3 separate regions of the Homo sapiens genome follow, and regions 1 and 2 are each reported to be linked to region 3. The links are microRNA targets in miRTarBase. Many come from high-throughput screens and were not tested one by one. Region 3 holds a microRNA gene; each other region holds the end of a gene's coding sequence. Distances are from middle to middle.

Region 1 (5,175 bases), not on the chromosome of region 3:
ACGCCTTGTCTTAATAATTAAGAGTCTTTGCTCTCTTGGTGAATCAAGAAGCCTGGTTGTTCCTCTTTCAGAAACAGCTTAATATAACAAAAATAATGCAAGCAACAGGATCAAAGGGGAAGATGCTGGGGACTCTCTTTCTGAGGTTTTGGGCACCATCTTTGTCAACTTATCTTCCCAAGTCTATGTTCTACGCTTTAAGAGATAGGTGCACCCTGGATACTGGGCGCCCATTGAACAGCTTGAAGTTATAGGGAAAAGATGGCAAGGAAAAAGGTCACTTTGTGCCTGCTGGCAATTTTCTGACCCCACCTTCCACCAACTGGTCCCCAGCATGTCCCCTAAGATAGAGGCAGTTCTGAATGCCCTGACCCTGGATGCATTTCTCATTATACACCACAGTGTGATGGAGCTGTGTGTGTACACACAGGCACAACCGGGAAGCTGGTTTATGCAGTGAGTGGGGCAGAGTGGAAAAGAGCCTCCCTGGAATTCAACTGTTCAGTAAAGTTGATTCACTAACTTCAGAGGAGCTGTTGGAATGATCCCATATCCCCCAGAATCTGTGAGCAGCAGTCAAGTCAGTACTGCTTCAGCCTACTTTCCTCTCCCCAGTATTTCACAGGAGTTTCACATATGGAGGATCTGGATGAGGTTTAAGTCTCATGAAATTCTATAAAATAACTGCCTGTATTAGTCCACTTTCACACTGCTATAAAGAGCTTCCCTGAGACTGGGCAATTAATAAAGGAAAGAGCTTTGACTCACAGTTCTGTATGGTTAGGGAGGCCTCAGGAATCTTACAATCATGGTGGAAGGGGAAGCAGGCACCTTTTTCACAAGGCAGCAGTGGAGAGGAGTGAAGGAGGAACTTCCAAACATTTATAAAACCATTAGATCTCGTGAGGACTCACTTGCTATCATGAGAACAGCATGGGGGAAACCACCCCCATGATCCAATCACCTGCCTCCCTCTACATGTGGGGATTACAGGTCCCTCCCTCAACCTGTGAGGATTACAATTCAAGATGAGATTTGAGTGGGACACAGAGTCAAACCTTATCACTGCTTTAGGAGTTCATAGGTAAGATTAATACCCCTGTTGCCAGAAGGGCAACATAGGGAACATGACCATAGTTCCTAAAATGAGATCTATAGTTGAGGCTGGTGTTTTGGTTAGCTCAGACATCTCTCCTTTCCTATTCAGGTCATAAGTTATCACTGAGGTGTTTGCACCATCTTTGCATATATTTAGGCTGTCAGCCCATCTAAGAATGCCTAGGGATTTTGTTGTAATAACATGTTAGATCACTGTGGGATCATCTTGAGTCTTGAATTCAGTGTGCACACATGCCTGTTTCTTTCAGTGGGTGTGTGACCCTGTGCCCACACACTATTCATCTTGGTTCTCTTTTCTGTTAGGTATTACTCCTATTTACCTTTGATTTTGTGTTTTTGAAAACTTGTATTAATGCAAGCCAAGTTTTCTGGCACGACCACCAGCGCAGAAATATAATTGCTTTATCACTGGAGGTGATATCCCTTCTGGCAAAGGCTGTACAACTAAGTGGAAATGCTGTAGAGAGAATTCAGACATCCACTGAGCAGCTGAAACTTTAAAGTCTACTCAAACCTAGACAACTAATGATCCTATATCTTGGTATCACATAGTTTACTGTAAGCTTTGTTGAGGCTATATAGAATGTGTATTTTAGATAATTCAAATATCTAAGAGTAGTGGTTCTGGGGCATTTTTAAAAATACAAATGCCTAGGTCCGTACATTTTATTTCAATTAGTATGGAGTAGGTCCCCAAATAAAAACATCCCAGAAATTCTGATGTGCAGCTAGTGTTGATAACTACTGATCTAGTTATTTCATTTTTGATTCCTCTCATGATAAAGAAAGCTAAAATGTAAAGCCAGTTTCTTAAAGTCACACAGGGTGGTGAATATGCATGATGCTTCTGAAGTGAATAAGTGCATACCATATCACGTTTCTCCACAAAGACAACATCAGCAATTTGGACAAGCCAATTATTTGTGATGTGGGATTTCAGGGACCTTGAAGTTCTGATCCCTTCCTCCTAAATGCCAGTGAACTTCCCAGTCATTGTAATAACCTGCAACACTCCACACACTTCCAAATGCTCTGTAGGTGGCTGAGAACCTTTTAACAGGTATAACTGGCTCCAAAGATGATAAATATTTCAGCTACATTTCTGCCCTCAAACATTTACTTTCAGTTCCTGAAATGGTGGCCTGGAAACTTATCACGGATCTAACAGACAAACTTTAGGTTTTAAAGTGTTTGTTATCTCTGAGATGAAAAAATTTTAAAAAGCAAACACCTGAATTATATATAATTGATTAAACATGGCATTTATCTCATTTCATTCATTTTTGTAATGAAGCTTTACCTAGCTCTCAGAATCTCTAAAATGAAAAGCCAGAAGTGCATATTGACAGATTCCAACTGTTGGGTAACCACTCCTCACTCCAAGTCTCTCCTCCCCGTCAAAAAACAAACAGAACCAAAAACCAAAACCAAACAAATCCTATAGAGAGTAAGAGCAGTTATTCTAAACTAAAGTTTTAGACTATTGTGAAGGTTTGTTTGTTTGTTTAATTAATACTCAAACGGATGTGTGGGAGGATGAGACTATAAATAAATTATAGTCCCTTGAAAGTTAAATTCCTGGGATTCCAAGGACCATTACCAATAGCAACTTTTATAACAAAGTTTTTCCACATATCCTTTTTGCAGACATGCAAGATACTTCACTTTCCACAGATTTTCATATCCGTCAACCAACCTGTGAATATTTACAAGTATGTGACTTCAACAAGTGCGGAGATTGCTGACTCTTGGGTGGCACTGGATAAACTATCAATGAGATGGACAGAATGGGTCCTTTGGGTAGATGGAGTCTATCCAGGCCACTTTAGGTTTGAGGAGAAAGGGGGATGCTCAGGTTTATTGAAGTTAGTTTATATCTCGAGAGCACCTCCTGCCTGAACTATGCTACCAGTCTTGGATTGTGATCTAATGAAATTCTAGAAAATGACCATACTTTAATGAAATTCTAGAGAATGACTGTATTTTTTCCCTATTCAAAACAATTCACATATCATATTTATAGAGTATTTCCTACTCTGGAGGCAATCTATTATAGAGGATAGGACTCTAAGCAATAAGTTCGATTAGCAATACACGACTTCAAGTATAATAAGTAAAAGCAGGAGTGGCAGGTTTGGTGGGAATCTGGTCAAATAGAGTAGGATAGGGATAATTATTTCCTAAATGAACTAAGACCTAATCCAATCTCATGCTTCCAAGCATATCTCTGTAGACAAAACACATTGGCATTACGACATATTACTTAGTTTTCATGAGGGTCACATTTCATTTATTTCCCATATTTTTTTTCAGATATTTATTGGATGTCAAAATTATCTTGTTAGTTTGATGCAACCTGGCAAAGATACTTTACAAATGTATATACTTTTTGGAAATGTGACCAAATTGTGAATGTCCGTCCAGCTTTTGAATAATAATAGTGAACTACTGAGAAATAATTATGAGACATGTAGTCCATTTTTATATTCAGTATGCCAATTATTTATCAAGAGGAGACAAACAGGATGAAAAAAAGAAGTAAAAATTAAAACAATTCATACAGAAAAATGTCACACTTTCTTACCTGAAATATTTTAGTGTTTGGGCTTCTTATTGAATTTGGTCTTGGTAAGATGAGTTGTATCTTTTTAAAGAAATAAGCAGTCTTCAGTGTTTTTATAGCATTGGTTACTACAGAAATTATACTTCTTTTACTTCTTGTCTTGAAGGGTGAACAAAATAAACAAACTGAAAATACTACAATGAATGGTAAATGATGAAAGATTTACAGTACAAAAAACAGTGTAAAAAGGAAGACAAGTTTAAATATTGTTGTGTAAGAAAGTGATGAAAATAATACAAGAATGAGAATAAGTAAAATGATAGGCTGGAACATCTGGGAAGGTAAATGCAAAGACAAAGAGAAGAGTTAATTAATAATAATCTTTAAAACTTAAATTCACATCAACAAATTTAAGTAGTCATTCAACTTAAAAAAGAACCTCCACCCTCCCTTAAGCCTATATCTATAAAATCTGAAAGCCTAATATACATAGCACTTTCTCTCACTCTAATTTCTATTATTTTCCCTAAGAGTATAACCGAATACATATCAAAATTCAACAAGTTTTATCATAAAACGATATTTTTCATAGCAAAGCAGAGCAACATGCAAGATAAATAAGCGATAGGGCTGCAATGTTTCTAGCTGTACCAACAGGCAGTTAATCTAAAACCATGCTTCTGTACGTAAACTGGCTTTTAAATGTCTTCCGTGTCTTAAAAGCCATGCATGCTGTTGTACTTCCGTGGGTTCTCCAATGGATACAGGACACCAGGCTTGCCAGAGGAAACAGCATTGCCTGTTTTGTTTCATAAATTATCTTTCATGTGGTTAACTCTGACAAAATGCATTGGTCTTTAAATGGCCACCATACCTGGCCAAAGCAGCTCAGTCCAATTCATCCGGTGTGCCTCTACAAATCAGGATGGAGGAAAAATGCTGGTTTTCCCTGTTCTGGAATAGTTATTACTATTTCTCTGAATTAGTGTTGCCTTCAAGCTACCGTATAGACTCCTTCCCCAGTCCTGAGATTCTCCACTATACAACTGAGAGTGATTTTCTCTGGAAATAATGATCATGTTATTTCAACTTATGGTAAAAAAAAAAAAGTGGCTTTCATTTGTTCCTTTCCAGGGGGTTGTAGACACAAAACCATGTCTCTTTACCACTGGTTTCTACATTTACCAGTAGTTATCCATCAGTTCTGTTTTATTTAATTAAATTAATTTTTTTTATTGAGACAGAGTCTCACTCTGTCGCCTAGGCTGGAGGGCAGTGGTGTAATCTTGGCTCACTGCAACCTCCCTCTCCCCGGGTTCAAGTGATTCTCCTGCTTCAGCCTCCGGAGTGGCTGGGATTACAGGAGTGCGCCACCACACCAGGCTAATTTTTGTATTTTTAGTATACACGGGTTTCGCCATGTTGGCCAGGCTGATCTCGAACTCCTGACCTCCTGCCCTCTTTGGCCTCTGGGATTACAGGCATGAGCCACA
Region 2 (5,175 bases), 110 Mb from region 3:
CACCGTTGCCCAGGCTAGAGTGCAGTGGCGTAATCTCAGCTCACTGCAGCCTCACTCTCCTGGGCTCAAGCGATCCTCCCACCTCAGCACCCCCAGTAGCTCTGACTACATGTGCATGCCACCATGCCCAGCTAATTTTTGTTTTTTTTGTAGAGACAGGGTCTTGCTATGCTACTCAGGCCGGTCTTAAACTCCTGGGCTCAAGCGATCAGCTTGCCTCGACCTCCCAAGATCCTAGGATTATAGGTGTGAGCGAGCCACCATGCCTGGCCTTAAAATTTTTTTAACAACTACCTGTAAGCACTCAGGACTTAAAAAGTATTTTGACTAATATTTAAAATTTTAAAGTTTTTAAAAATTTCTTTTATTCATAGAAATTAAAAGAAAACAAATAGTCTCTTATTTTTTAAAGGAGGGTAATTCTGAAACTAATATTTTCTATCAACTACGGCTGGTGATGGTAAAGTTCTATATATTAATGTTACTTTTTCATATATATCTCTCTTAAATGACACTTTGGCTTTCGTTCTCTCAATGTTTATCTCTGGGGAAAATGTGATTAAGATAATCAGTATTTTAGTATATATCAAAAGTTCTAATATAAGTTTTCCTCATAGTTTTTAACAGAGTTTGCATAGCTCTATTCTTAAATGTAGGACTGCCATTGCCTTTTGGTGGTAATTCACAAATTATTGTTTTTTTTTAAGAGTATAAAATTTGAGGTGCCATTACAAGAAATTCTCACTGAAAATGTTGAGAATATATTTCTTAATGTAGAAAAGAAAAGTAATTTAAGCTGCTTTTACTCAATCACAAAAGAATTTGCATATGTATTTCTTAATTACTGGAGAAGACTTTATATAATTTTGATTGATTACTAGTCAAAACTCTACAAAACATTTAGGTAATTCTGAGAAAGAAAAAAAAAATTTAGTTGAAAACATTATGAATTCACAAGCAGAAACAGAAAGGTGCCAAAGAGCTGGTGATACTGACTTTTGCTAATAAACACCTACCAGGACAGATCAGTCGGAAAAGGTGTGGCAGCAGCAAGTAAACAGGAATCCCCAAATGCCCCTACCTCTTCTCCATTCCAGATTACAAAGCACCTGCTATAATGTACTAGAGTTTAGTGATTTCATATTAGAAACATTATAAATACGTCTTAAAGAGTCTATAGGAAATATACATATAAAATCATAGTATATTTTAAAATAGTTTAAAAACTAAAAATTAGGTATAAGCATATCTATCAACATCAAACATCAATTTTTCTCCACATCAGTTGGGTTTTGTACCCACCTAATGACATAGTCAAAGCCCACCATAAACCCAACTTACTTATACACTGACGTTAGAGATACACACACACAGATATATATATACACTCATACAAACATATGTAACTGTTAACAAACATACAAACACACACATCCGTTGAGTCTTCACAGAAAAAAAGGCACAGTGGCTGACAAAGCATCTTTTCATAGATATTTGTGTCTGCAAAGTGTTTCAATGTGGAAAAATAATTTTTCACTAAATTCTGCTTCAAATTGAGCACAGTGGGCATAACAGTTTTAGCTGCCTATCACATTCTAAACAAGTTTCTTGGTTTCGTTACAGTAAAAGATTTGAGTGTTCATATATAACAATTGTTCACATTTCCTGTGTGAAGGGTCTATTCTTGATTGGGTATAGAATCAAACGGGTTTTCAGCGTACTGTGACAACAGCAAGGATTTATGAGCATGCCTACAGTCCCTACCAAAATACCCGAGCCTGTGCTTATCCAACTCCTTCTCTCCAGTAAACCACGCAGCTTGAGAGAAAATTCTGGGCTTCAGATTTTACCATGTGCACCCTGGAAGTTGTGGAATGTCCGTAATGAGTTCTGTGTCATGGATGCTATAACGCTAGCAGCCAGAAACCCAGGCTTTCTACCTGTTTCTTTGATGTTTAATCACAATAAACTCCTGGCTATACAAAACCATCGCAACTTGCTTTTTAATGGCATCAATAAAATAGCTCATTTCTTGGAAGACCCATGAGGAAAACGAATGTTTTCCTTGTCTTGGGATTACACGGGCCAGCTAGCATGCCTGGTAATGTTCACCATGCTGTCCTGGGAAATGTCACCCAGCCTCATCCAATGAACTATTTAATGATTTGTACGAGAAATAGTTCATGAGAAGCAAATACACTGCAAATAAACAGTCCACTATTAGGGAATCCTAAAAAGTAAAATATGACAATTAGAGAATCTTACATGTAAAAATTTGTTTACTCATTTACAAGGGTTAACTGTGTTTATATAGCTTTAATTCAATTTGATTCTTTTTAGTTTCCAGTTTTAAATAATCATGTTTTTTAAACCAAAATGTTTGATTCCCCAATCACTGATGGGTTATTGTATAACACTGGAGCTTGTATTATTAGGCTTAGTGTAGTCATTTGAAAGCAAATGGAATAAAAAGTGCTACACAATTTATGGGGTAGGGGGAGAAAAATATTCCTAAATGTTTCCAAAGGAAACATCAGAGGCAAATTAGATCCAAAGCCCTTAAATTGGGCCATTTGCCATTTAACAATGGAACAGGCCGTTCCTATCAGAACAGGGGGATTTTCTCTTCTTCTATCCCTTCATCTTTCCCTCTTTGCATGATGCTGCTGTAGCCCCCTCATCTCTAAGACAAGACAAAAGAAACAGAGAAACAAAGAAGTGAACTCTGGGCCTGACGAGGTTAAGAAAAAAACTAAACTGTGATTAAGTAAGTAATGGAAAAAGGAGGAATCATTCCACTAGTTGTGTGGTCTGGGAGAGTCTGTTGGCTTATTTTAAGTCACTTTTTAGAAAAGGATGCTTGGGGTCTACTTATTCAAGCATTGGTCTAACTCTTTGATCTTCAAACATATTCTCATTACGGCCACTCCATGAGCTTTCTGGCCCTGGTGACTATCTTCACTTTTTAATTTAAAGGGTCCCAAGTATATCACAGTGCCTCTCTTAAGTCCCTGACTGGGGATACGTCATTCACAGCAAGTGAAGACCTCGTATTTTAGGACCACTGTTTGCAAAGGAGACAAAAGTTCAAAAGGATGCCAACTAGTGGCATGGAATGCCACTCCTGGCCTGTGTAGTGCAGCAGAAGCAGACACCCCTGTTGGCTGAAGTTTGAGCAAACTGTCATACCTCACAGGAAAAAAAATTTGCATTAAACCCACTGTTGGCATTCACAACTTATTGAAAAGTCTCTTTCCTTATCCCCTCATCTTACCCCTAACCAGTGACAGACACCATGATGAGTAACTGCATTTTTGGCATCCCCTAAACTGACATTAATGAAGTCAAACAAGGTAAAGCTACTAGTATTTCCCCAACTGCAGGGGGCATAGATGAAACCTCTTTACATTCAGTGATTTCCCTCTATTTCAGTATGTGCAGTATATGCCACCGATTAATGACGACACTGGAAAAATGTAACACAATAATAGTAAAACACCAGCTAACTTGTAACACTCATGTTCCCAAGCATATACATAGATACATACATACACACATACATACACACTCCCACTGTTTGGGGGCTATTCATCACTGATGAATGAAACTTCCACTCAGGAGGTTTCCCCGTGCACATAATTCACCATCTGAGGAGATGCTGTCCAGATGAGTAAGTATAAATTAGGGTGAACTATGTATGCAGCAAACCCATGACAACCCAGCATGCTGATGACATCCCGTTACGGTTTACTCAGTGTAGGATATGTATGCTAAGACGATGACCAGCTCTGCTCCTGCAAGTGTTAGAATTCACTTGTCTTTTCATGGAATATGAAAGGTGAACTGAGATTTCTTGGGTGATGGTCATTTGCTTGAATGGCAGATTTTTCTTCTGCTGCTGCATGAACGTTGTCTGGATAAGCATCTTCTTCATTGTTTTCATCTCTCAGATGACCCTCCAGGCTGTGTCTAATGCCATAAGAAAAGTAAATCAGGAAGCCTGTTGGGGCAGGAAAAAAAAAAATCAATGTTTCAGGTATGTCAGAAAATGACTTTTAAGTTATTGAGGTGGAAAATGTAGAACTTAATAGAGTTTGTCTCTTTCCTTTCTGTAGTACTTTAGAACGGGGGTCACCAACCCCTGGGCCACAGACCACTATTGTTAGGAACCAGGCCACACAACAGGAAGTGAGCAAGCAGTCTCTAGTATTTACAGTGTATTTACAGCCACTCCCCATTGTGAACATTACCACCTGAGCTCTGCCTCCTGTCAGAGCAGGGCAGCATTAGATTCTCACAGAAGGGACTGCACACGTGAGGGATCTAGGTTCCATGCTCCTTATGAGAATCTAACTAATGCCTGATGATCTGAGGTGGAATAGTTTCATCCCCAAACCATCCCCCACCCTGTCCATGGAAAAACTGTCTTCCACAAAACCCGTCCCTGGTGCCAAAAAGGTTGGGGACCGCTGCTTTAGAAGAATGAAATGCAAATGTAAGATACCCCACAGAAGGTGTCCTTGATCAATATTTTCCTGGTAGAATGTGCCTCTCTATTGTGAAGACCCAAACTTTATAGACTGTATTTTGCTCTCAACAAGTTTTTCAATGTTTATATGGAAAAATTTTAATTGATGTTCTTAGAAGTCAATACTGTACTTTAAACAAAATGATATGTGGAATAAAGTCTCAAATTATACCCTAAATACAAGTGGTGAGTTATCAGAGTCAAGATCAGATATTTTGCAAAGTACACTCTGTATTAACAAAGAGGACACGGACATGCTTTACACGTGTCACTGTCACCAGGAGAGTCCGAAGAACTGTATGCAAAGCAACTGTTTATTAACAGCCACACTGACTGTGTGGGGATCAGGAGGCAACGTTTTAAGTACCCTCCTAAGATCACTGCAGACATGTAGGCATTTTGCTGTTTTAGTTCTATTTTAGAAAATTGGTTGTGAGTTTTGGGTTGATATAAAATGACTTTTTCTGGGTTTCATTTTTTTCACCCATAAGTAGAAGGAAATAGAGCCTACATGGTTCTACAGGGTTAGTGGGAGATACTGACTTAAAAAGGCATCTGAAAACATCTGGAAAAGCACTCGGACATCCCTAAGAATTAGGAAAGAAAGAAGCGGGAAAAAAAAGCCTTTATTCCCAGGATGGGGGAGA
Region 3 (5,747 bases):
ATCACACTTTCACCAAACTAATTTTAGCATTCGTGGATAATTCTTGTCTGAAACAGTTATTACTACAGTGTGTGCCAAACAGTGATTTTCTACTTCCATCATTACTCCTACATTTGTCAATTAAAATGTTACTATAAGGAAGATATTTTCTTTTATATTGAAAAAATGCAATTTTTTAAAAATCAGTCTGGACTCTTGGATTCTCATTATATTGGTTATAACCCATGACTATAATACATTTTGTGCTCAGATTTTTCTAGATTTTACATTGGGATGCCCTTCAAGTTGGGTTCTATGTATTTTTGCCATTTTACTGTTGTTTTTTGAGCACTGCCTTACCTTTTGACCCCACAAGATATTCTAGGCTCAGTGTACACTTTGCCTGGTCCAGCCCTGGAATCAGCCATTGCTGCTGTGCTATCCTTGACAGAACTATAACCTGAATTTAACAAGGAGGAAATATCAGGCAAACACAAATGGAGTGACATTCTAGTTAACAACTGATCAGCACTCTTTAAAAATGAAAGACAAAGAATGACTGAGGAATGAGTTCAGATTAAAAGAGACGAAGGGACACGCTCCAACTGTAACTGCAACGCATGACTGCGGGCTGCGTTCTGCATTGGAAAAAAGTGTTACTGATGAAATTTGAATATCGTCTCTAGATTGAGCAACTAAGCAATAATATTGTATTAAATTGCTAGATTGGGCAATAGTATTGTACTAAAGTTAATTTCCTGACACAGTTAAATAATTGTACTGTGTATATAAGATGTCAAAATTGAGAAGTTGCAAGGCTAAATGGAATTTCTCAGTTTTTTAAACTCTTACTTTGTACATCTGAAATTATTTTAAAATAAAAACTAAAAAAAAAAAACCTAAATACAAACCATGAGATAGATTTATATGTACTAATATGGGATGGTGTCCACAATCAATTGGAAAAGATAAGTTGTAGTACCATTTGTATAGAATTGGCCCATTTTTGTAGGAGCAAGACAGAACAATATAGTGCACATACATATTTATCTACACATGGGAGAAATTCTGTGAAGGGTATGTACTTCCTGTTAACAGACATTTCTGGGAAATGTGTTTGGAAGGTATGAGACACCTTTTACTTTTTGATGTCTCCTGATAATGGGAAAACAGTAAGAATGTGGGTTGTATGCATGAGTGTGATTCTACACGTGTAGGTTTAGGTTTGATGTACTCCCATCCAGCTTATTCTCTTTTGCATTTTCCAGCACAGGCAGTGCTGTGCAATGTCTTGCCCAGTGGACACCCACCTAATTTTCACTCCACAAACCACTGTCCTACATCTGATCCTTAACAAAGTATGTTAGTTGTAGACACAAAGGTGGCCTACATTTCATACTTGTTGACAGTAATGCTAGTTGACTCATCTTACCTTTGTCTGAGGAGGCTGGAAATTGTTTGTCCTCAGAAACTTTAGGGAGAAATTTATTACTAAGATTGTATCATTTTGGTCTCCCCAGAGAAATGAAAAATTAGAAATTGGCCATGTGACAATCGTTGCATTTACCTCTTTAAGGAGCAGTGATTCTTTAAGTGGTGCTTGATTTATCTAAACCCGATTAATTAGTGAACGGTCATCTGTTTCTCCCAGGAATTTTTAATGATCATTAGGCTTTTGTAGTTACTGTGAAATTTTGTTTACGTGGATTTATTTTTGTGCAGGATTGTATACAGGGCAGATGCTCCTTAATTTAAGAAGGGAGATGTGAGAACAAAAGTGTCTTCTCTTGAGTGAGGGCCTGTTATGTGCCCTGACTTGTTACAAATATCGACTAATGTAACCTTCTCTACCATGTACCTTTCTTCCAATTTATCAATGAGGAAACTGATGCAAAAATGTATGTTCCCACAGGCTCTGGTGTGTTCACTGAGTTAGCTCCAGAAAGAACTGTCCCCTTCTCATGCCTGTTCCCTACTTCTTTTGCAGCTAATTCTCCGAAATGGTTTCTGTCTTCAGCTTTCTGGGCTGCCCCATCACCTGTGTTGCTTCTAAATGTTAGTTTCATTGCTGCCTTCTGGGTTCCTCTGCTTCTCTCTGACATGATGTCTCTACGGATGCATCTCTCAGTAATGATTATAATGGTGGTGATGATAATAAAAAGAGAATACACAAGTGTTTTTATCAATCCCTGACCATGCTGGGCACAATGCTAAGCATGTGCAGGCATGATGTCTTTATTCTGCCCACTCAGCTGATGAGATTGAAGGGGCTCCCTGCAGGTTGGGGCCTGAAAAACACAGCCAGGTCCATCTAGGAACTAGAAGCTATGGTCAGGCTTACATGCTTTTTTCATATCAGTGTTCATGTAGATGTTTAAGCTCTTGCAGTAGGTTTTTGCAAGCTAGTGAACGCTGCCAAATTATGCTCGCCACACAATTGCAGCCACCTATTCCCAGGCAGTATAAATATATGGCTGAACTAACATTAATACCTATCACTGTTTTATCAAGTGACATAATCAAGATAATTATGAAGTATCCAAATATTAATTTTCATAGATTAAAAGCAGATAAAGTATTAGAAATCTGCTTATATCATTAGCAGAAACATTTTTGGGGGCCACAGGGTAAGGAAAAGAGGGGAAAATATTGTCCTTCAACAAAAGTAATCATATTCTAGTAAGTATAATAAAAGAAATGACAAGCTTTTCAGAATTTCCACGACTAAAAATTGTTTTAGCTGCAGCTAAAAAAGCATCACATAACAAAATATCTCTTGTTTAAAATATTTGCTACAAAAAAGTCCTATTCTATATGTCCTGCATAAGAACAAGTATCTTTATATAAGAAATGTGTTTAATAGCCCTCTTTCATTCTTTTTCTGAAGCCCTCCCTGTTAAATTGCACCCAAAGGGGAAACATTAATTGAACTGTAAAGCTTTTTTTTTTTCTGTCTAAAGACATTAAAGACATATAGGTGGTATTAAATGAACCTTTAACTAGAGCTCTGTGAGTTTTCAAAATAGATTTTATTTTTCTTTACCATAGGCCAACAGAGATTTTGAGAAACACATTGAAGGATCTGTTAACACTTGATATACCCAATAAAAGCAGTGGTTGTGCCAGTGCTGATCTGTCTTGATGTGAATGTGAACAATGGGAACCTGAGCTGAGCAGGTAAATAATCATGTAGTACAGTCACCGTCTTCAGTGTTTGAGATGACTAGCAGGGTAAACCACGCTGTGTCTAAGATGCAGTGTTAATTCTGTTTGAAGTAAAAATATGCAAGTGTGGTACTGGATATTTTGGCACGCAATCTTGCGAAATTTCTCATTGATGAGATTCTGACATAGGAACTACATTTGAGTAAGAATCATAGCTCAATACAGCATGATTTCAGGAAAGTCGACTAAGATAAAAGTGTTTCTGAGGCTGAACAGCAAGAATCTTTTGCTAAGAGTTAGAATAGATTGACAAGAACCTAAAATCAGAAGTTGCAATTCTGCTGAGATACTGCTTTTCAGTTCTCCGGTGGAAGCTTCATTGGACATATTGTACATCAAGCCTCTATGTGACTGATTCCTGCCTCTTTATGTCTTGTTTTAGATTCTCCATGGCAGTAGCTTTAGGCAACCCAGTTTTACTGAATGCAGCAATGGTTTCAGTGACCATTAGAGTCCAATTTTAGGATGATACTTCTCCAAATTGTTAAAACTCCCTGGTGCTTTTCTCTTATAAACTGCAAAATGTCTTCATATTTCATCCCGCTTTTCAGTTAATGCTAGGGTGACAGAAACTGGACCTCTCCCAAGACATGTGACAGAGTAATACAGCAGCCAACTTCTTCGCCAAATTAAAGTTTTACAAGATTTAACCTGTCATCAAGACCTGGGATTTTGGTGGTGAGTCATCTTCAAAAGCCAAGTTCGGTCCCTGGTTTGCCTTCTTTTCCGCACAAGAACAAGGGTTTTGATGGCTCTGGTCTCCAGGACCATCTGTGGCTTTCTATTAGCAATAATCGCACCTCGGTGAAACCTCATTGGCTACGATACTGCCACTGCGCAAAGCTCATGGCTTTCTTTAATAGCAAATGGCCTCTGACTTTTAAGAAGCCATGTGGCTACCCCTCAGCAGACTTAGGAGAGGTCTTGGCTATTATTTGTTGTTTTATAAGGTGTCATCATTGAGCATCTACTCTGGATGAGGCTCTGTGCTGGGCTTGAGGGGTACAGGGAAGTTTCACATGTCCCGTCTTGTTGAATCACACACACTTGATCTCACTACAACAGCAGAAAACAAGTTAAAGTTCCCCAGGGGTTGACACATTTGCCTGCCGTGTTTATTGCTGCTGTGATTTCTGCAGCATGGTCCAAAGAAGGCAATCAGTCAACAGTGAATGGGTTGAGATTTTGTGATTTTGGTTTAGGAGTCTTAATCTCTAGAATAAAATCTAATGAAAGGGTGGGGCTATGTTTTTCTCTTGCCTTGACTTCTTTGACTCTATTTGTAAATTCCAAATTTACCCAGGCCTCTGGCTCATTCTGTCTTAAGGTGCGGGGACCTCTAAAATGTAGATGGCAACAATCTTTAGACTATATGTGTCTTGATGGTAGGGCAATCAAATTGATTTCCTCAGCATATACGAGTCATGTTTTGTAAGCATGGTGGGTACTTAGTCAATGTCTCAATCAGATTTGCTTCTGTTTAGCAAGATAATCTTTTGTGGGGGAGTGTTATGGACTGAACTGTTTTCCTTCTTCCAAACGTATATGATGAAACCTACCCCCATGTACTCAGTATTAAGAAGTGGACCTTTGGGAGATAATTCAGGTTAAATGAGATTATGAGGGTGGGGCTCTCGTGATGAAATTAGTGCCCTCAAAATAAGAGACCTCAGAGAGCTTACTGTCTCTCTTCTCTCTCTGCTACGTGAGGACACAATGAGAAGGGAGCCATCCACAATGCAAGGAGAGGGCCCTCATCAGAACAGACCATACTAGCACCTTGATCTTGCACTTGTAGTCTTCAGAACTGTAAGAAAATGAATTTTCTATTATTTAAGCCACCCAGTCTGGTGCAGTCTATTATTGCCTTCCAAATGGAGAAATACAAGGAAACTAGGGCCGTCTTAGCTTCACAGAGAGAAGATGTGGAGAGGAGTTAGGAGGTAGAGACTGGACCTTGATGGTGGTGATATTCAATTAGTGAAAGGCTGAGAAGAGGTCAAATATACTTCTTGTGGCCCCAAAGATCAGAACCAAAATGGAAAGGTAGAAACAGTAGGCAAACAGAAAGCAACTTAATAAAAGGAAAAGGAACCTGAGAGAATGCTCTGTCTCTGACAGTGGTTGGGATCTCATCACTGGAGATATCCACACAGGGACTGTATTACTACTGAGAGGGGGTGGGGCTGAAAGGATCCAAGCATTGCACTGTGATGCGACCCCATAAGGTCACTTAGTCTTTGGGACTTGTGAGCTCACAGTGAATCATTACAAACAGAAACGATTCCCTCTTATTTGTGGAGCACATTAAAATTTCCAAAGCATTTTTGTGAGTACATTAGCTCCCATGATTTATATCAAAACATTAGAGTTGACATTCAATACACATTTGCTGAATGAGGGGGATGCATGAAGGAGCTATTGTGGTACCTTGGTTGGCAGAAGAGGAATACATGGGCAGAGTCATTTCTAGACTTGCTAGGAAAGGCCAAGCCAGGCTTGGACCTGGGTCTCTACTGTACTCTTTACTCTACTCAGTCTTT

Evidence for each region. The annotated mature microRNA hsa-miR-1206 reads UGUUCAUGUAGAUGUUUAAGC and lies in region 3 at 2,339-2,359, shown strand. An mRNA with a match to its seed (bases 2 to 7 or 8) in the 3' UTR can be bound and repressed. Matches are read on the target gene's strand: a 7mer-m8 pairs with bases 2 to 8, a 7mer-A1 pairs with bases 2 to 7 and ends in A, and an 8mer does both.
Region 1: miRTarBase lists MTCL3 as a target of hsa-miR-1206. The part of its 3' UTR that is shown has no 7-base or 8-base seed match.
Region 2: the mRNA of SLC7A2 is a reported target of hsa-miR-1206. Seed matches in the 3' UTR shown: 7mer-m8 at 2,180-2,186 and 7mer-A1 at 1,637-1,643.

The regions. Positions count from the first base shown.
Region 1 is chr6:127,469,377-127,474,551 of GRCh38, forward strand. It overlaps MTCL3 (MTCL family member 3), which reads right to left. Exons shown (of 7, transcript NM_001400265.1): 7 at 3,598-4,015. The coding sequence ends at 3,905. It overlaps SOGA3-KIAA0408 (SOGA3-KIAA0408 readthrough), which reads right to left. Exons shown (of 13, transcript NR_174482.1): 7 at 3,704-4,015. Among named protein-coding and RNA genes, the nearest start is that of KIAA0408, 13 kb to the left of the region's middle.
Region 2 is chr8:17,563,775-17,568,949 of GRCh38, reverse strand. It overlaps SLC7A2 (solute carrier family 7 member 2), which reads right to left. Exons shown (of 13, transcript NM_001370338.1): 13 at 1-4,000. The coding sequence ends at 3,804. Among named protein-coding and RNA genes, the nearest start is that of PDGFRL, 11 kb to the left of the region's middle.
Region 3 is chr8:128,006,563-128,012,309 of GRCh38, forward strand. It overlaps MIR1206 (microRNA 1206), which reads left to right and starts at 2,336; the gene lies at 2,336-2,394. PVT1 (Pvt1 oncogene) reads left to right here. Exons shown (of 9, transcript NR_190187.1): 5 at 3,028-3,156; 6 at 3,756-3,882. It also overlaps the pseudogene RNU4-25P.